Regions from separate parts of the Homo sapiens genome. Here all the other regions are linked to region 1. Evidence: fine-mapped QTL for protein levels in blood plasma. A gene starts in region 1. Each other region holds a variant in brackets. All regions are shown on one strand. Distances are between the middles of the regions. Region 1 holds the start of DPP10 (dipeptidyl peptidase like 10). Region 2 overlaps DPP10 (dipeptidyl peptidase like 10). Region 3 overlaps DPP10 (dipeptidyl peptidase like 10). Region 4 overlaps DPP10 (dipeptidyl peptidase like 10).

Evidence for each region. A credible set is the group of variants that fine-mapping cannot tell apart. PIP is the chance, under the fine-mapping model, that this variant and not a neighbour inherited with it causes the effect. The UK Biobank Pharma Proteomics Project read protein levels with antibody pairs (Olink). The fine-mapping took linkage between variants from a reference panel, not from the people measured, so its PIPs are less certain.
Region 2: its variant is the best candidate, but not a certain one, in a credible set for the plasma level of the DPP10 protein (UK Biobank, PIP 0.81).
Region 3: its variant is the best candidate, but not a certain one, in a credible set for the plasma level of the DPP10 protein (UK Biobank, PIP 0.61).
Region 4: its variant is the best candidate, but not a certain one, in a credible set for the plasma level of the DPP10 protein (UK Biobank, PIP 0.73).

Annotation. Positions count from the first base shown.
Region 1 is chr2:114,440,181-114,445,437 of GRCh38, forward strand. It overlaps DPP10 (dipeptidyl peptidase like 10), which reads left to right and starts at 2,461. Exons shown (of 26, transcript NM_020868.6): 1 at 2,461-2,658. The coding sequence starts at 2,599.
Region 2 is chr2:115,225,463-115,230,462 of GRCh38, forward strand. All of the region lies in intron 1 of DPP10 (dipeptidyl peptidase like 10), which reads left to right. Among named protein-coding and RNA genes, the nearest start is that of DPP10-AS1, 67 kb to the left of the region's middle. The variant G/A (reference allele first, on the strand shown) is at 1,919.
Region 3 is chr2:115,729,153-115,734,152 of GRCh38, forward strand. The region is part of intron 8 of DPP10 (dipeptidyl peptidase like 10); the gene reads left to right. Among named protein-coding and RNA genes, the nearest start is that of DPP10-AS1, 570 kb to the left of the region's middle. The variant G/A (reference allele first, on the strand shown) is at 2,974.
Region 4 is chr2:115,306,521-115,311,520 of GRCh38, forward strand. DPP10 (dipeptidyl peptidase like 10) reads left to right here. Exons shown (of 26, transcript NM_020868.6): 2 at 2,719-2,833. Among named protein-coding and RNA genes, the nearest start is that of DPP10-AS1, 150 kb to the left of the region's middle. The variant C/T (reference allele first, on the strand shown) is at 2,322.

The DNA.
Region 1 (5,257 bases):
ACTTGGAGTTTGATATAATGTGGAGCCTGGAAAGGGAGCATATGGTGTATACGAGGCACTCTTTTCTCTTACTGTGATTTTTCTCTATTTTCAAAATGCAACTTTGGGAAAAGATTTTAGGTGGATTCTGGCCACCTACCTATAAATGGTAGTGTCAATATCTTTCTTGGATCCTGCTGCCATCCAGGTGGGGGTAGAACCTTTTTGAAAAATTGTAGAAAAGGGGTGAAGTCTCATGTGATTATAGTTGTAGAAATCCAGCAACTCATACCCTCTTTGTGGTAGGCATATAAATGCTGTCTCTATCAATGTGCCTGGAGAGGGTTCCTTGAAGTACTAGTGGCTCCTTCCATCCTGTACAGTTCTTTGATGGGGATGGGATACTCTGAACTCTTGGACTGCTCTCCCTCCCTGGGCTCCCCAGATAATTTAGTTTGGAAGTTTCTTAGATACCTAGTACAAAGTGCTATCTAAGAAAGGAATTAAGCCAATTCTACTGGTATAGAACATTCATTTATTCAGAGATTATCAAACTGTAAACCACCTGATGAAATGTTCATAGGTTTTTTCATTGAGTATTTTGTATGTTTTTTACTTCATTACTTTCTTCTCTTCTCTTTATTGTTTCCCCCCTATAATTTATTTGAGTTTATTTTGCCATTCTTTTTCCAACTCTTTGATATGAATAATTAGCTTATTAATTATTAATTTTATGCTTTTCTGCATTTCTGGTATAGGTACTTAATTATATACATTTTCCTTTAAATATTGATTTAGCTGCATACTGCAAATTTTCTGTGTTGTTTTCATTATTGTTGAATACAAAATGTTTAAACATTTTTAATATACTCTTTTTGTGATTTATGAATTATTCAAAGCAATGCTATTCAAGCAAAATACAAGATAAGCCACAAATTCCAGTCACATTTGTGATTTAGAATTGTAAACTTCAAATCATGAGATTTGTTGGCCCTATGGCTGCCTCTGGTTGTGCTCAATATGATGCCTGGATATTGCTACACCAGATTCTTGCACACAGCCTTTTGCCTGGTTCTTATTGGCTCCATCTCTTTTCCCATGATTCTCCTGATTTCTCCAATACTCTTGCCATTAACTTTTGTGGCTGCAAACAGTCTGATCTTACTTCTGTCACATCCTTACCTCCACTTTGCTACTCAGAACTATAACCTTCTGAAACTTAGCCATCCTCAAACATGTGCAGACTACTTTGTCAGAATGTTTAGATCCCTTTTCTGTTTTACAAGAGAAAATATGTGTTTATAATTATGTATAAATTAATTTCACCAAACATTAATTTATTTCATTTCACATTAAAGTTTATCTGTAATATTTTAGGCTGTTCATAAAAGCCTCCTGAATGTAGTTCGTTAGTTCAATCTTATAAACCTAGCATTTCATTAGTAGGATACATTTCTGATGAATAAATACTGTTGGTTTTCAACATCAAACACTTTGCAACAAAAGTTGGAAAAGAGTGTCCTGCATTTACTCAAGACTACTGGATCTTATTTCCAACCAGGATATATTTATTCTAGTTAGTGTTGATGTGACAATGGGGACTGGTGACTCGGAAAACTTAATTTACAAATATTTATAATTTATTTTGCCTAAAATGACATTAGGGACAGAGAGGTGACCATTTGGGGAGTTAGACTGGCATGAGCTAACTACCAGTTTGTCCCAGGCATTCAAAAAATACGGCTTCAAGGAAAGCAATGGTCAAAAATAAAGGTTGAAAATAAAAACATTGTCTAGCTTTGGTGCGATATCCAAAAACTACAATAACTATTGTATTTGAAAACTTTTTAAATATACCTTAAGCTTTCTGCCACCTTACAGAAAGGACAGTCTCTTGGCTGGCTGTTATGGCTAAATTTTAAAAATATCCATAGGGAATATCAGTCCTTCAACCTATAGATATAAAACCCCCAAATTCTGAAACTGCCAACAGTCTTTTTTTTTTTTTTTCCACAGCATTTACTTGTGTTTTGATTGCAAGAAGTACCCAGGAAGGAATAAAATTTAGTAACAGAATGAGGATGTTATGATTTTTTTTTAAACTGGGTTAGGGGTGGGGAGAGGGAGAGAGAGAGAGAGAAATATTTTGCACTGGAAAAACTATAATCTGGAGAGACAGAGGAGTTGAGAGTGCCCCTTTAAACTGCAGGACTGCAATTGATCTCTGTATGTTTTCTGGTTTTCGTCCCTTTGAAAGGGGAATGAGAGCCAGGATCATTGGCTGTACTGTGGAGCTGTCACATCTCCATACTGAAAAGGTACACTGCAAGTGAATTTAAACCGTTTTTGGCTTTCTATTGCATATTGCCAAGAGCTTTGAGACTGATGAACCAAGTAAATGCTCTATTTAGGGCTAAGTGAGATACAGATTCCTCCAATCTGATAGCGTTTCAGCCTCCGGAGTGAGGAAGCAGCAGAAACAGAAGCAGCAGAAGCAACAGCAGTAGCAGCGGCAGCAGCAACAGCAGCAGCCCCTACTGAAGTCCAATAGAGGAGACTTGATCTCTAGTTCATTCTGGAACTCCGCCTGGGATTGTGCACTGTCCAGGGTCCTGAAACATGAACCAAACTGCCAGCGTGTCCCATCACATCAAGTGTCAACCCTCAAAAACAATCAAGGTAGGATCTGGTTTTTCCCTCTGCTTCTGCACATGTGTCTTCATTCATCTACCTAACACATGGGCATTGATATATCGGGGTACTGACAGTGGACATACCTACTTGATTTGAGTTTGAATTGAAGGTTGAGTCACAATAAAGCATTTGGCTCTGCATGTGTGTGTAGACTGGAAAGAATAGTTTCCACTGAACACTTCTTTCATCTTCATGACTTTTTTTTTTTTTACTGAGAATCTATCAGAGGTATATTTCCAGAAGAAAGTTTTGTGAGTGTCTAGAAGAGTTTCCAGTCCATGCCAATTTTCTTGATAGAACTGGGGAAGAATTTGCAAACTGCTAGAAATAAATAGCATCAAATTGACTACAAATCTGATAACAGGATTTCATTGTCATATGAATTTTGGATCTCTTATCCTTTTTTAAAAAAAGCTCATCCTTCATTGTGAGCATTGAACTGGTGGTTATACTAAAGTGATTATAGTGAGAGAGGATGAAAGACTAGAGAGAGAGTATAAAATCACATGTCTTTATTTATATCACCATGTAACTCAAAACCAGTGAGATGATTGGAGACACTCTTCAATGCAGGTGTTGTTTAAAATTTGAGGCTTTTCTGACAGCACATGGTTAAAGGTAAAGAACAAACTCACAATTTCACTCTTCTGTTTTAGTTTCAAGTCATGCTTATACCATTCTCTTTGTTTTTATTCGGGATGCTCTTATTTCCAAGAAGGCTTATAAACGACCAGACTTCCAATCAAAGTTTACTATATTTTGCCATTTACTTGAATTGTATTATTATCTATGTGGATATTTTGCATCTTGAGGGAAAGTGATGGATTCGTCTGAAACTCTTTTATGAAAAAAAAAAAAAAACTAAAACAAAAAACGTGATATCCTGACAGGGCATCTTTAGTTACTGCAATCTCTCATTAACATACAAGTGCATACCTTTTGCTACTATTCCTGATAAGCCTGACTTTTTATGATTTATATTATGTTTTGGTTTATGTCTCAGGCCTTTAATAATATTGCATAGACTGTAATTACAAAAGGAATATAATTTTCAACAATGTCTCTTCTTCATGAATTTACCTACCGTTTGCCAGAGTGTTTCAGTGATAGATAAACCATAAACTAAACATGTTCCTCTATTTATTAGCAGTGACTTTTAAAAGCAATGGGGTTTCCAGGGTATATTAAATGATGCATAATTAGATTCCCATCATACATAAACATAGGGAGTTAACTGAAATCATGCAGAACTCATATTCAGATAATTTACACCACCTCTAATAACAGATATGAGAATCTTTTTCAGCATTAGATTTTCTGTGCTGTATCTAAGTTTAGAAATAAAAAATGTTGAGCTTTTGGTATAGTTTTCCTCTGTGTATCAGTTTCCCACATACATCAATTATCTAAGCATATCACTGAACAAAGCCAAAATAGTAAATACATGACACTCTACATTGGGATATATAAGCTCTAGTGGGAAATATGTATTGAAGCCTAAAGTGGGATAGAGTTACAAACTGGCTGCCTACTGCTAAGTATGTCTAGAATGCTATAACAAAACCAGTGGCTTTCTGTTTAAGAGTCTGAGGTCACAGGAATCAAGCATTTATTTTCCCTTTTCTTTATTGAGTAAGCATAAATGACTACTACTTTCAGAGACTTCAAATCACTTCCTTTATTAGTGCTCTGGCATTGGCTGCCCACAAACAAACTGTGGAACAGAAAAAAAAATGTTTCTAGTGTAGAGGTTTTACATCATCTTGCTGATCTTGCAGATGCTGTTTTTTCCTTCTAACTGCAGCCATTGAGTTGAAATGAAAAGTATCATAAAAATTGGACAACCCACCACTTAACAATGTATTATATTAATGGCTTAATGAAGGAATCTTGAATCAAAGCTCTGGGTAATTTGGTTAATTGTACAAGTTAAATTCTTTTGTGCACCCCATTCCCAATATTGCTCTGGGGAGCAAAAAAATGCTTGTGATGTTCATAAAATATATATAGTCGCAAGCACTGAACTATTAAGGGAGTAATTACTTGAGTATTTTGCAATTTGCAATAGTGAAAAGGGATGAGTGGAAAATCTCTCTTAGTTCAAATTATGTGCTCAATTATGAAACATTTATGGCTTTTTGAATTTATACTAAAAATGGCTATCTATATTTAGGTAATGCATTAGCCTATGAACAAAATGCAATAACAATCTAAAGAAAAACTCTAAGATGAGAGGGTTTTGGGAAGCTGTGGGACATTGGAGCTCAAAATACTCTTTGAACTATTAGAATTTTAGTTTCAAGCATGGTTGTTTAAAGTTAATTTTATTCCTCACTCTTAAATTTACTATCAATTTACTATCAGATAATTTTAAGTAACCCTCCCTCATGGAATCTGGTTGGCCTGCAGGTAATGATAACCCACTTTGAGGATCTGGAAATAAATAACTTGCATATTGCTCCATTTTAGAAATTCAAAAACCTCTAGAGACTTTTCTCCCAAAGCTCAGTGTAATAACCTCTAGAGAACTTTTCCCCCATCAGTATAGTAAATGCTGACTGTTTCTTCTCTCAACAGTTAAACT
Region 2 (5,000 bases), 790 kb after region 1:
ACACTTATATATTGAAGTCAAACCGCATGAATGTGTGTGTGTGTGTGTGCGTGTGTGTGTGTGTGTGTATGCATGTATATCTGGAACTCAGGGAAGTTTACTGAGCTGGGGATAGATTTGCCAATCATCTATGGGTAGTTAGGAATTAGAACTATGGGTATCAATGAAGTTTCCTAGGGACATACATGAATGAATAGAGATGAACATAATAAATCAAGTATTAATAGTAATTATTTCTCTGTTATAATTATAGGTATTCTTTGTGCTAGTTTTCTTTATTTGTATTTTTGTTTTACTTTAATCAGCATATATTGATTTTTGTGGGAAAAAAATTGAAAAAGATTTTTTTTTTCAATTGAGAAGAAAAAGTTTATTGTATATGGCAAAGGGTAGAGGAGAAGAGAACCAAGATGGACCCGGGGTTTTGTGTCTGGATCAAAAGGCTTTTCTCCTCTCATTTTGCACTGTTTACCCCACTCAGTTTGGCGCTACCTTTTATTACTCACTAGCAGTATCATTTCCATCAAAACTCTAATTTTTAAATATTTTTTGGACAGTAATGTTAGCTGTTATCAGAAGTTGTCAACAGAACTTAAATTCAATTTTACTTATACTTTAACATACAGGCTGCACATGCTAAATGCTTGTCACTTAGAATGCTGTTCTCATTAGTCTGGATTGCAGATTTTGTTGTCATGATGATATGTCTGGCAACATTCTCATAGTGGGTGAGCTCGACTGTCTAGGGATTATCTTCTATTACAGTTCAGTTTATCATGCTCTGTTTGATATGTTCTTTATTAAGAAACTTAATTACCTATAGTTCTAGATATTATGTGCTAATGAGTTGTACGTGTGAGTAAATGTATTCCGAACTCATTTTTGGCTGCTGATATATTTCTACAAAGATGCTTTGAGAAAAAGAAGCGATAAGATCTGCTTCCATTCTTGGTCAGAAAAGTTGCCACTTAGTCATAATGTGGCTTTATTCCATGTTTCCATGAAATTCATTTGAGACATAGTAAACTCATATTTTTGAATTTAATATTTGTAAGCACACTGTCAGTTATCCACATAGTCAAGTAAAACTTAGCCGTGAACAAAATCTTTGAACTGTAATGTCATATTGTGTCAGGTAATCTTATTCAGCTATGAAATACTTAATACTTTAAAAATGACACTTTATTGAGCACTTCTATGTATAACAGTGTTTAGTAAAATGTTTATTTTGACTACTTACTATAGTTACATCAATTTGGTATTTCCAGCAGTAGTCAGAGGAAGCACAATTTAATTAAATATGTGGATGGAGAAAATTGATTTCAGAGCAAAGTTTCTTGTTTCAGATTACTTGTTTGGATCTCAGATTTTGCGTGTTGTTAAGGGACTTACATTTGTATAACCAATTGTAATAAATGAAGATTTCCATGAGGCATATGGTTGCATTCATTTCGGAAGAACTACAGATTTCAAGTAAAACAAAACAAAACACAGAAATCACTGAACCAAGGCACATTTATTGAGTACAGACATCAAACAAATCTCATTTTTGTATTAAAATCTAAAAATTCCATATAAATAGCTATGTTTGTAGGTTGTTCTCTTAGGCTAAAAATAAAGACAGATATTGCATCTTTCATCAACCTAACATCAAGATATTTGCGTGGGACCAATCTTCTCAAGATTTGATTTTAAATTGTTGCTTAGTCTTATTCAAATTGCATGTATCCTTCCCTCTCAAGGTACATAAAATGAAATGTTCTGAAAAGACAATTATGTGAATATGGGAGATTCTAGGGACTTACAGACTCTACTAATTTTAGCAATAATTTTTTTCTCATAGTGAGGTCCATTTTCAGAGTACATTAAATCATGTATGAATAGTCTTCATCTTTCAGTAAAGAAACTGATTCTTCCA[G/A]TTGAAATTTAAACTTTCTTTTACTCTCTTTTTCTTTTTTCTGTTGTCAACTTCATTGAAATGTAATTTGCATACAGTGAAGTTCATCCTTCTTAGTGAACAGTTCTGAGTTTTGGCAGCTATATATATCTGCTGCCACTATTAGGATACAGAATAGTTAGCCCAAACTCCCTCTTGCCCCACTTTAGTCACCTTTCCTTGACTCTCACTCTTTGGTAGGCGCCAATATGTTTTTTGTTCAGATAGTTTTGCTTTAGCAGATTGTTATATAAATAAAATCAGACAATATGTAGCCTTTCAGGATTGGTTTCCAAAGTTCATCTAATGCATTTGAGATTCGTGCATGCTGTGGTGTGTGTATCAGTCTCTGTTTTCTTTTAATGCAGAATAGTATCCCATTATATGGATATGCCATAGTTTGTTCAGCCATTTTATGCTTTCTTTTTATTCTCTTTTTTCAAAATTAATTATTTATTTATATTAATTTTGTGGGTACATAATAGTTGTATATATTTATGAGATACATCCGATTTCTTTTTTTTCCTTTTTTTTTTTTTTGGAGACAGGGTGGTAGTCTGTCACCCAGGCTAGAGTGCAGTAGTGTGATCGTGGCTCTCTGCAGCCTGGACCACCCTGGACTCAACCAATTCTCCTGCTACGGCCTCCTGAGTGGTTGGGACTACAGGTGTGCACTATTATGCCTTGCTGATTTTTTTGTGTATTTATACATATATTTTTTGTTGTTGTTGTTGACATGGGGTTTTGCAAAATTGACAGACTGGTGTTAAACTACTGGGCTCAAGTGGTCTGTGTGTCTTGGCCTACCAAAGTACTGGGACTACAGGTGTGAGCCACTGCACCCGGCCCTATACATGGGGTACAGGAGATGCTTGATACAGGAATACAATGCATACCAGTCATATCAGGGTAAATGGGGTGTCCAGCACCTTAAGCATTTACCCTTTCTTTGTGTTACAGACTATAAAATTATACTCTTTTAGTTATTTTAAAATATAGAATAGATTATTGTTACTGTAGTTACCCTGTTTTGCTATCAAATATAGATCTTATTCACCCTATCTAACTATATTTTTGTACCCACTAACAAAACCCGCTTCAATCCCCCCTCCAGCCACTACCACACTACCATTCCCAGCCTCTGGTAACCATCATTCTACTCTCTATCTCTGTAAGCTCAATTTTTTTTTAAAAAATTTAGTTTCCACAAATAAGTAAGAACATGTGAAGTTTGTCTTTCTGCACCACACTTATTCCACTTAACATAATGACCTCCTGTTCCATCCATGTTGTTGCAAATGACAGGATCTCATACTTTTATATGGCTGGATAGTATTCCATTGTGTATAAGTACAACAATTTCTTCATCCACTCATCTGTTGATGGACACTTAGGTTGCTTCCAAATTTTGGCTATTTTGAATAGGGCTGCAATAAACATAGAAGTGCAGGTATCCCTGTGATACACTGATTTCCTTTCTTTTGGGTGTATACTTGGTGGTGGGGTTGCTGGATCTTATAATAGCTCTATTTTTAGTCTTTTAAGGAACCTCCAACTGTTTGCCATAGTGCTTGTACTAATTTACATTCCCACCAACAGTGTACAAGGGTCCCCTTTTCTAAATATCCTTGCCAGCACTTATTACTGCCTGTCTTTTGAATAAAAGCCATTTTAACTGGGATGTGATGATATCTCATTGTAGCTTTGATTTGCATATCTCTGATGATCAGTGATGTTGAGCATCTATTCATACACCTGTTTGCCATTTGTAGTCTTCTTTTAAGAGGTGTCTATTAGATCTTCGCCCATTTTTAATTGCATTATTAGACTTTTTCCCTATATAGTTGTTTGAGCTCCTTATGTAATCTGGTTATTAATCTCTTATCAGATGGATAGTCTGAAAATCTGTTCCCCCATTCTGTAGGTTGTCTCTTCACTTTGTTGATTGTTTCCTTTGCTGTGCAGAAGCTTTTTAACTTGATATGATTCCATTTGTCCATCTTTGCTTTCGTTGCGCATGCTTGTTGATTATTACTCAAGAAATCTTTGCCAACTACAATGTCCTGATTCCTCAGTGGTTTTTGTTTCTTGTTTTTGTACAGTAGTTTCATAGTTTGAGGTCTTAGATTTTAGTCTTTTATCCATGTTTATTTGATTTTTATATACAGATCTAGTCTTATTCTGCATGTGGATATCCAGTTTCTCCATCATCATTTATTGAAGAGATTGTTCTTAGGACCTTTGTCGAAAATGAATTCACTGTATATGTATAAATTTGTTTCTGAGTTCTCCTATTCTATTCTATTCTATTCTATTCTATTCTATTCTATTCTATTCTATTCTATTCTATTCTATTGGTCTATGTTTCTTTTTATGCCAGTAGCATGTTGTTTGTTCACTATAGCTCTGAAGTATAATTTGAAGTCTGGTAATGTAATTTCTCCATTTTTTCTTTTCTTTTCTTTCTTTTTTTTTTTTGGCTTAGGATAGCTTTGGCTATTCTGGGTCTTTTGTGATTCCACGTAAATTTTAGGATTGTATTTCCTATTTCTGTGAAGAATGGCATTCGTATTTTGATAGGAATTGCACTGAATCTCCAGATTCCTTTGAGTAGTGTGGACATTTTAACAATATTGATTCTTCGAGCCCATGAACACGGAATATCTTTGTATTTTTCTTGGGTCTCCTTCAGTTTCTTTTATCAATGTTTTACAGTTTTTATTGTAGAAATTGTTTGTTCTTTTTGTTGTTGTTGTTACTTCCTAGCTATTTTATTTTATTTCCGGCTATTGTAAATGGGATTACTTTCTTGATTTCTTTTTCAGATTGTTTATTCTGGGCATATAGAAATGGCTATTTTAATGTTGATTTTATGTCTTGCAGCTTTACTGAATTTGTTTATTAGTTTGAATAGTCCTTGGTGGAGTCTTTAGGTTTTTCCAAATATAAGATTATATCATCTGCAAAGATGATTTGACTTTTTTCTTTCCAAGTTGAATGCCCTTCAGTTCTTTCTCTTGTCTGATTGATTTAGCTAGGACTTCCTACTTTATTTTCATTTTGT
Region 3 (5,000 bases), 1.3 Mb after region 1:
ATCTAAATCTGGCTTTTCTATTTCAAAGAGATACATTACTGGAGGGGACTGGGATGGCCCTCAGAATTTAATAAACAGGTGGACAACACATTTAAAATCTGGTTAGTTCTGGCAGTCTAGGTAGCAGGAGCTAATTGAAGTGCAGAGACTAAGACGTGCCCTTTTTCTTCAAAATATTATTGGTACTGTGTGACACCCTGACAGATGAAGAAACCATGTTAATGCAGTGTGGTAAGTAGTTGAATCTTAATCAACACAGAATTCTATGGAAGAACAAAGGAATGATACCATTCTAGGGATTTGCAAGCATTTTTTCTAAAGGAGAAACCCTGGCCAACAACAGTAGCTCAAGCCTGTAATCTCAGAGCTGTGGGAGGCCAAGGTGGGAGAATTATCCAAAGCCAGGAGTTCCATACCAGCCTAGACAAAATAGCAAGGTTTTCATTTCTACTAAAAAATTTTTAAAAATTAGCCAGATGTGATGGCATGCACCTGTGTTCCCAGCTGAAGTGAGAGGATTGTTAATGAGAGAGGATTGCTTGAGCTCGGGAGTTGAAGACTGCAATGAGCTATGATCCAGGCCCCTGAACTCCAGCTTAGGCAACAGAGTGAGATCCTTACCTCTTAAAACAAGGGAGAGAGAGAAAAAGAGAGAGAGAGAGAAGAGAGAGAGAGCATCTGAGTCAAGCCTGAACAGTTAACAAGTGTTACGCATGAGAAGAAATTAGGAAGGAAAAATCTAAGCAGATGTAACAATTTGCAAAAACCCACAAGTGTGTCCCTAGGGAACCAAAGTCTCCTTGATATAATTGGGCCATAAAATTTGAGACAAAGGAAGGTAGCAAGAAGCGAGGGATAGTGACCTCTATCAATGATTTGGAATTTCAATTATTTTCCTACCATTTAATAGGAAAACTAATAGAAGTTTTCAAGTAAGGGAGTGACAAGATTGGATCTTCCATATGAACAGATTGTTTTTGTGACAGCAGGAACCTGGGGTCTAAGAGTGGAAAGAAACGGTGAGCGGCTGTAAGGCTTCTTCTATGTTCTATCAAGAGATAATGAGCAATGGAACTAGGGTTAAAGCAGTAAAAAGGAGGAAAGACTCTAAAATTGATGAGACAATGAAATATATAGGTCTTAGTGGCTAAGCAGATGGGGTGAATGATAAGAAGTCAAGGATGATTCTGTGTCTTCTGGTTTGGGTCACTAGTAAGTAGTGGTGGCAGACATAGTGAGCAAGCATTAACAAGGAGCAGTGGGTTTCAGGGAAGAGAAGACTAGATTAGCAGCAATGCGGGCATTGAACCACGTACTGACGTGCTCCCTTGGTGATAAAAGGTGGTCTGTAACGTCGATGAAGTTTTCAGTCAACTGAGGGTATACTCAATGTAGACCATGCTTATTGTGCTGCTCCGTCCCGAATTAAGATGACTTGGGTCTCTGTCCTATTGAAAAGGCTTCATACATTTATAAGGAAATTTTAAGGAGAGAAATTAGAGACCGTTTCCTGACAAATACGGTAATTTTCTTAACTAAAGAATAAAAATCTATGTATTCGGTCTGAGAGTAAACTGTTTGTAGGGGTTGTGGAGAGCAGAACAAACGGGTAATACAAACTTTTGTGATGATGCTGTAGGTCTGACGCATTCCAAAGGGGAAAGGAAAAAGTATAGTTTTTGCCATACTTTGGGCTCCTATGTTGCCGTTAACTAGGAAATGCTGTACGTGTATGTGATTTAATCATCAAAATGTTTGTGCATCTAATCATTTATGAAGAAACTAAGACGCACCCAGTGCTGTGGCTCATGCCAGCAATCCTAGCACTTTGAGGGGGCGAGGTGGGCAGATCACTTGAGCCCAGGATTTCAAGACCAGCCTGGGCAATATGGCAAAATCCTGTCTCTACTAAAAATACAAAAAAAGGCTGGGTGTGGTGGCTCATACCTGTAATCCCAGCATTTTGGGAGGCCAAGGCCGGTGGATCATGAGGTCAGGAGATTGAGACCATCCTGGCCAACATGGTGAAACCCCGTCTCTACTAAAAATACAAAAATTAGCTGGGCATGCTGGTGCGTACCTGTAATCCCAGCTACTCGGGAGGCTGAGGCAGGAAAATCGCTTGAACCAGGGAGTTGGAGGTTGCAGAGCCAAGATCATGCCACTGCACTCCAGCCTGGTGACAGAGCAAGACTCTGTCTCAAAAAAAAAAAAAATTTAACTGGGTGGGGTGGTGGGGTAGCACATACCTGTGTTCCCCCCTACTCTGGAAGCTGAGGTGGGAGGATCACCTAAGCCAGGAAGTTGAGGCTGCAGTGAGCCAAGATCATGCCACTGCACTCCAGCCTGGGCAACAGAAGCGAGACCCTGTCTCAAAAGAAAAAATTTAAAAAAGAAACCAAGACTCAGAGAGGATCAGTGATTTAGACATGGCCTCAGAGCTAATGAGTGGGAGAGCCAACATTTGAATGTGTGTCTTTTGTTCCTAAAGCCAGGGCTTAGTCACTAGTCTACTCTACTTGTTATAGGGGGATGTCCTTCACTGTTCCCCAAGACACAACACACGTTTTGGGACCTAAATTGTCAGACTTCAGTGATCTGTTTCCTCAGCCAAAGACTCATCCTACTGTCCATGGACTTACTCTAATCCTCACTGCATTTCCAGGAGGAACCCTACCCATGACTTCAATGTTAAGGTTTGGCAGAGGGATGTAAGCTATTCAGATGTTTTTGATTTTCCCTCACTATTTTGACTGCTACCCCCAACCTCTGCTTCAAGAGTCCTACATGCACCTTACCCTCCCACTATCACCTTGCTTGTGGAATGTGCCAGGAGCTCCCAAGCTCCAGACCTTTTTTTTCCCCTTTAATGCACTCACTGAAACACAATGATATTGCCTAGGGAATGCATGTAATTTCAACGTTATGTGTGTGATACTCTGGTGTGGAGATTTCCTTTTTATTACTTTACAG[G/A]AGTCAATTACAATCTAAATTAGCATGTATGGGAGACACAGAAAGTAACATGTAACATTTCAACTTTTTTAAAATTGAAATTTACCTTTTGTAAATGTCATAGAAAAAAAAGATGAGAGAAAGAGTGACATAAAAGACAATAAAATATTTTTACAGTAAGCTTTACAGGCATGTCTTAATCTTTTAAGACCAGGCCAATCTGTAAGAGTGGCTGCTGCCCCCAACTAGTCACTAAATAGAGTCCTTAAAAGTGTCAGTTTTAAGAATCTTTGTCTCTATTTTTAGTATTGTTTAGTTCCTAAAGAAAGTAAAGCAATATAAAGTATAATGCATTTTAAACAGCGAAGTCAGAAAAATAAGAAAATGCTCAAAAAGGAAGATTATTTAAAATGTAATTCGCACAAAACACGTATAATGTTATTCACTTAAATTGCTGTATTTAACCTAGCAATGTAATTAAATACGATATCAGATCAAAGTTTTACTTTAAAAACTTTTAAAATGTTACTAAAAAGAAAGTTTACAGCTACCCACTTCACAGCTTTGAAAATTTCCATAAAGCATTTAATCTATTAAATAGGAAAAAAAATGACTCACTTTCAAATATTTAAGCATATAGAATAATGGAACTAATATGCTTAAGTGATTTACAGATATATTTTAGAACCTTGTATATTTAAGGGATTATTCCTTAAAGTTTAATCCAACAGCTGTGGAGCAAATATACCTGCCAGGCATTATCTAAGAGCAATACGATGAGAAATACGGGTTTCCATGTCTTGGGTATTTCCAACTTAGTGTAGTGATAAACAATAAACAACTATTGTATTGGGAACCATTTGGAGCATAGTAAATATAAATATAAATAGGATTTATTTCACATACTAAATAGAATTATAAGTAGAACTAAGTTTGATAGGATGGAGGAATGTCAGGTGCTTCATAGATGACATGGGCCTTGTGTTGGTATTCAAGAATGACAAGAATGAAAAGGTGCGGAAAAATTCACGAGATAAGCAATATTCTTATCAGCAGATTCTGATTGTTACACTTTTTTTGTTGAAATAAAACAGGGCAAAATGCCTATTTTCACCTTCATGTTTGTTTCACATTAATGTTTCACATTAATGTCTTTTGGCGACATGAAATTGCATTCATTTCATCATTGATTCAACAAATATTTATTGAGCACTTGCTCAGTGTCATCTATGGGGCTGCAGCATGGGAGTCACAGGAAGGCAGGGTTATCAGTAGTGCTGAGTCTCCAGAGGTCAAACAAGGGAAGGATTCCAAAGCTTTTGTTGGATTTGCTCATAGATCATCGATGGCCTTGACAGGAGTAAAATCAGTTAATTGGTGGGGCCAAATCCAAGACTGCAGTGGATGGACATGTAAATGGGGAGTGAGAAAGTTATGAATAGAGACTATTCTTTCAAGGAATTTGACAGTGAAATGCAGAAAATTGAAAAAAAAAAAAAAATCAACCACAGGCCTGCAGAGCTGCAAGTAGCATCCTCAGGAAATCCTACTGGTCTGAACTGACAAACTAAAAATGGAAAAAATCAGCTTGCTTTTTACAATAACACATTAATCTAAACACAATCGTTGTATCTCAGTATTGTGGAAGTGCTTTGTGTTGTGGCTATGTTTTTAAGTGCCTGTGATATAAAACCACATGTGCTGAAAACTCCATCTGCTCTGCAGTGAGATTTTCTAAATCAGAGTAATAAAAACGATGAAGAGCCAAACGTACACTAAATTGGAATGAAATGCCATTTGTAAAAATAAATTCTTTGTAAATAATATAATATAATTAACATTGGAAGTTTCAATCCATGAGTAAATGTGCCCATTAGTTGCAGTTAAAGAAGCTTGTGCCTTATCCAGGATGACTGTTAAGCAAATGCATATTAAAGATTATTTTATTTACCACCTTCCCATTCCAGGTAGCTTTATCTTTCCATCTGAAGAAAGTCACAAGGCTCTCTATATGATTATTTTGGTACATTAGCATTTTTATGGGGAAG
Region 4 (5,000 bases), 870 kb after region 1:
CAGTGTAGGGATGTTAAAGAACTTTGGAGAAAAAAAGTAACGTAAGTAACACCATGCTTTAGAAATGTAATGGTAATAGAATATAAGGTGGATGGAAAGGGGAGAATTATATTACATTCATTAAGTCAGCAGTTCTCAAATAGGGACTTGTATATGCCTTGAGCATTGATGAGTCATTTCAGAGGAACCACACATTCTTATGTGCATCACTTTATGAACAGAAAAATATGTCTCGCTCAAATTTGTTTTACCACTTTTTAAATGGTGGACTTCCGTAGCCAGCTGTGACTTGGAAAATATACATTTATTTGCAAACATTACTGACTTCAGGATAGCATTACTGAATTCCACATATTACTGTGAATTTTCCCAAATAAAAAGTATTGATGTACAGTTATGTATGGGTCCAAATAACTTATTGATTTATTGATTCTTTAATGTACTTGTTCTAGAAATATTTATCTTTACAAGTGGCATTATAGTGGTTAAGTGTGATCTTTATAATCAGATTTTATGAACTAGAACTCCAGCTCTCCTACTTATTAGTGATAAAAGGATATGTTACTAATCTCTTCAAATCCCGTTTTCTTATCTGCAAATTTGTGAAGATGACACTAATCTTACCAGATTATTTTGAGGATTATGTGAGATTGCAAATCTAAAATATTTCAATACCAGACACATAATAATATATATAAGCTATTATTACTCTTTGTTAGACTATGTCTGGTAGACATTACATGGTTTTATCATATTCACAAACTGAAAAACACAGTCAAAAGTCATTTCTCAAATGGTTTGTCATGAGTTGGAGTGACAGCATATCAAGATCATAATCAGTAAATTTCAGTTTATAATTTTTTCTTGATTCTCTTACTGAATTGAAAAGTCAGTTATAATTGCTACATTTCTATTCTTTTTCCTGTTCTTACATTGTGAAACAATAATATGTGCTTGCTTCTGTTAGAGTTAATAAATAGGAAAGTATTTATGGTTCTTGGCCCAGATACCCATTCGCTGTTGGTTACTGCCCTTTTTTTCACTGTCTCAGTTCTTGAGATGAGTATTTCCCAACTTTCAGACCACTGTAGGTTTTGATTTACAGCAGCAGCCTCTCTCGTTCTGTCACTCTACCTTCTGAGTAGCCTTGAAGTAGGGCATCATTATAGAGAATCAGCAATCATCACAGCACACACATTCTAACAAAGAAACTCACCTAGAAACTTGCAGGAACGTTGCATTCCAGATAAGGGTTTATGGTCACAAGGCAACTATTGACTGTCTTTATATCACTTCTCTAAAGCTGATAATTTGGGGGACCCACTGTATTGATTTACGTGGAAAATATGAATGAGAATCCTAAAGTGCAAGAGGAATAGAAGTGTTGGATAATAAGCATTATTTGAAAAAGAGGTGTGGAGCAAGTCATTTAAGAAAAAGTGGAATTGATCTCTCCTGGATTTGGTTTATCAGAATGAAAGACTAACTTAGAGCGATTTATCTGAGAAGGGAAACAACAAACAACAAAATGCCTCCTATGCATGGTTTCTTCTTGTATTTATTTAGAGTCTAGTTCTTTAAATCTGCCGGGTTTATGGCACAATTCAATACCAAAATAACTATATGAATATTGACATCAATGTTTTAATCTGTGAGTCACAGGAACTCATGTACAAATTTATTAAATGTTTTCTATTCTGTTTATATTTGTTGACAACAAAGCGGCTCTACGGCTTCTGGTGTGATTTGTGCACATGTAGTGAGCTGGATATCTTCATATTTTGTTTCATTTATCACCAAATCTGTTAGCTATTTCTAAATAAAGAGGCTGTATTGAGAAAGGATGAAAAGCAGTTGGGAAATGGAGTAGGAAGAAAAAAATGAGAAGCTCAGTGTTTTATAAACTGTATTGCAAAAAAAGCTGACTTTCATTTCAAATCATTGTGGTCTGTGCTTTGCTTTGGTGAATTATGCCCACACATATCTAGTCAACACAGGAGAGCACAGATCATTGGAGGAATGAATAGCTTTACCACATGCATCGTGAGAGATGTACAAGTTTATTTTCCCCATCAACCATACCTTTTTCCAATATCATGCATGTTGCCCAGCAAGACAGTGTCATTAACCACTGGTATAGAAGGACTCATTTAATTTAGTTAACTAAATCCTGTTTTTTTTTTTTTTTTTTTTTTATGAGTGGTGGGAGAACTGTTTAAAAAAGACCTGTTTGGTTAACAAATGTGCGCTGCTCTGCAGTGAGGGACATTTTGAATGATTTTCCCATTTCTAGTCTTTGCCCCATCCAGTTAGAAAGTAGC[C/T]CGTAGTGCTTCAAGAACATTTACATTTACATCTTTATTGTAGGTTCCATTGTAGCAAGAATACATGTAAATGGACTCGCTCTATTTCAATAATTATTTTGCAGAGTATTTTGGCTATCATCCTGGTGTTTATAGTCAATGCATTTTTACACCATCTACATTTTGGACAGCAAGCATAAAACGCTGCTGGTTTATCTCACAGAGAGAGCAGATTGTCCCCCAAAAGATAGCCATTTATAATATGTGCACTTTTGAATAATTAAATGAACTACTGAAGAGGAAATGGATTCTAATCAGCTTTCAAACTGTGATTGTGCCATGCACTGAATCATTCCTTTATGAATACATTTCTCTTGGAGCATGAATAATTACAAAACTTTTTTTTCTATCTCGGTAGGAACTGGGAAGTAACAGCCCTCCACAGAGAAACTGGAAGGGAATTGCTATTGCTCTGCTGGTGATTTTAGTTGTATGCTCACTCATCACTATGTCAGTCATCCTCTTAACCCCAGGTAATCTGTCTTTATTCCTCTCTTATGATGGATGGTATTGTGGATGATAATTTCGCATTCAAATGCCTTAAGAGGGTAGCAATATGTGGTATCTTAGGGCACATTAGCATGGGTTGGAATTTGGAAAAAAAGCATAATCAGACATTTTGCAAATGGCACAGTAATTCTGCAGTTCAAATATCATGCAGGATATTTTGGGGAAGCTGAAAATGTAAAATATGTAAGTTGAGAATGCCAAGGAGATTTTTGGTCTCCATTGCCACTTACAGACTTACTATGTGTTAGTTTGATAAATGCAGAAGACATTTGACTTTTATTGTGGGTTGAAGATGAGGGAGTGGCATCTGGAAGTTTCTATATATAGATGATAACCCAACTGTATGGAAATGGAAAGACAGGATTTGATGGAAAAAGATCAGATCGAAAGAGAGTGATCTAAGCCTCTAAATTTGGACACCTATTTCTTGTGTCTTCTTTTCCTTTCTTTCCTAAAGTTTTTACATTCTAAGTTTCTACCCTATCTAAAGAAACTTTGCAAATTGCCCCTGCAATGATTTTTGGACTGTGTTCTTCAGATTAAAGAGTTTAATACTAATATGGAAATTATCATTGTGCTTCTTTCTGGGGACTATTTCAATACCCAGGAGATTCATTACTCTTTAGTAGGTACTAATAAGGAAGGCAGAGATAAAGGGATCACTTTTAAACTCCTTCAGTTGTCTTCCAGATACATTTAGCAGTTGCTGCAACCCACCCACCCAACTGTTTTTCTCAAAGACCAAACACCCACATATGACACAGTGTTATGAAAAATAGTCATTTCTGGGATAGGATTGAATGAATCCAAAAATCAACTGATATTTTTAAATTATAGCCTGTTGTTGAATGCTATTTATTTCCACTTCAGGTTTGTCTTAGTTTTGTTATTTTATGAGCCCCTTAAACACATTGAACTTATTTCCTGATGTACAAAATATGATTAACAATAACTGTTTTTCAGAGTCATTTAGTCAAATAATTTTGGTGACTAATTATACAAATGGCAGTATCAATTGTTCCAGTGAGACACTTCGTGAGATATACCATCTTTGAAAAATACTGACATTGAAATAAATAAACTGCCAAAAATGCAGTTTTTAGATGTTAGTTAACATGTGGAGAGGTTGAGAAAGAAATTAAGGGAGCTACTAGGGAGGAAGGAGGAGAGAAAGGTAATTGGAAAGGAAGAAAGAAAAAATTCCCTGGTAAAAGTTGGCTTATCCGGCATTCTCCCCAGGAACCTTTTCTTAACTGCCTCATTTGTACATCTGCAGTACAATGTCATTGAGCAATGTGATGGCTCTAAGTTGCTGCATAATGCCAAGAATCATTGTTACAGGAAGATGAGTTTCAGCATGGTGTTTCACTTAAACACAAGAAGTTTAACATAATTATAAAAAAAGAATGAGTCGACATTGCTGCCTTCTATTGATGGCTATTAGCCAGATGGAGGTATTCATGTCATAATCCCTGTGTATTTCTCTTGAACTCTTTTTCTTTCATCCTGGTTCTAGCATCCTTGGCCCAGTGATTCACTTTCTCAGGTTTTCTTGTTACTCATTGAGGCCATAGTGATATTTTGGTGTCCTTGAGAGTTTGATACAACAAAGACCACATAGAGTGAGGCACTCACTAAGTTAAACTTCTGCTCAACCCTTTTCAATTTTTCCCAGTATAAAACCACAGTGATGAACCATAATTGAGTTCATTTTGTCCTGCACTTATTCATTTGTTAAAGCAAGAACAAGCGTGACATACCTGAGTTTGAGTTCTGCCTCTGTAATACAGTAGTTTTGTGCAATTTGGCAAGTTATTTAACCTTCTCTCTCACTTTACTCATCTGCATGATGGGTATAATATTTAGTTCCAACATTGCAGTGTTATTATGGAGGTAAAATGAGATAATGTAGTTCAAGAGTTTATTTAGCATGCTGCCTAGCACTGCTGCTGCTATTCCTTTGATGATTGCTATTATTCAGTACTTATTGACCACCAGAAACCATGACAAGCAGTGTTATATAAAGAATGTTCCCCAGAAAAGGTATAAAACCTCTCAGGAATATACATCTTCTGTGACTTCAATTTTAGTTATGACAAACGGAAAGGGACAAAATATTTAACCTGAAGT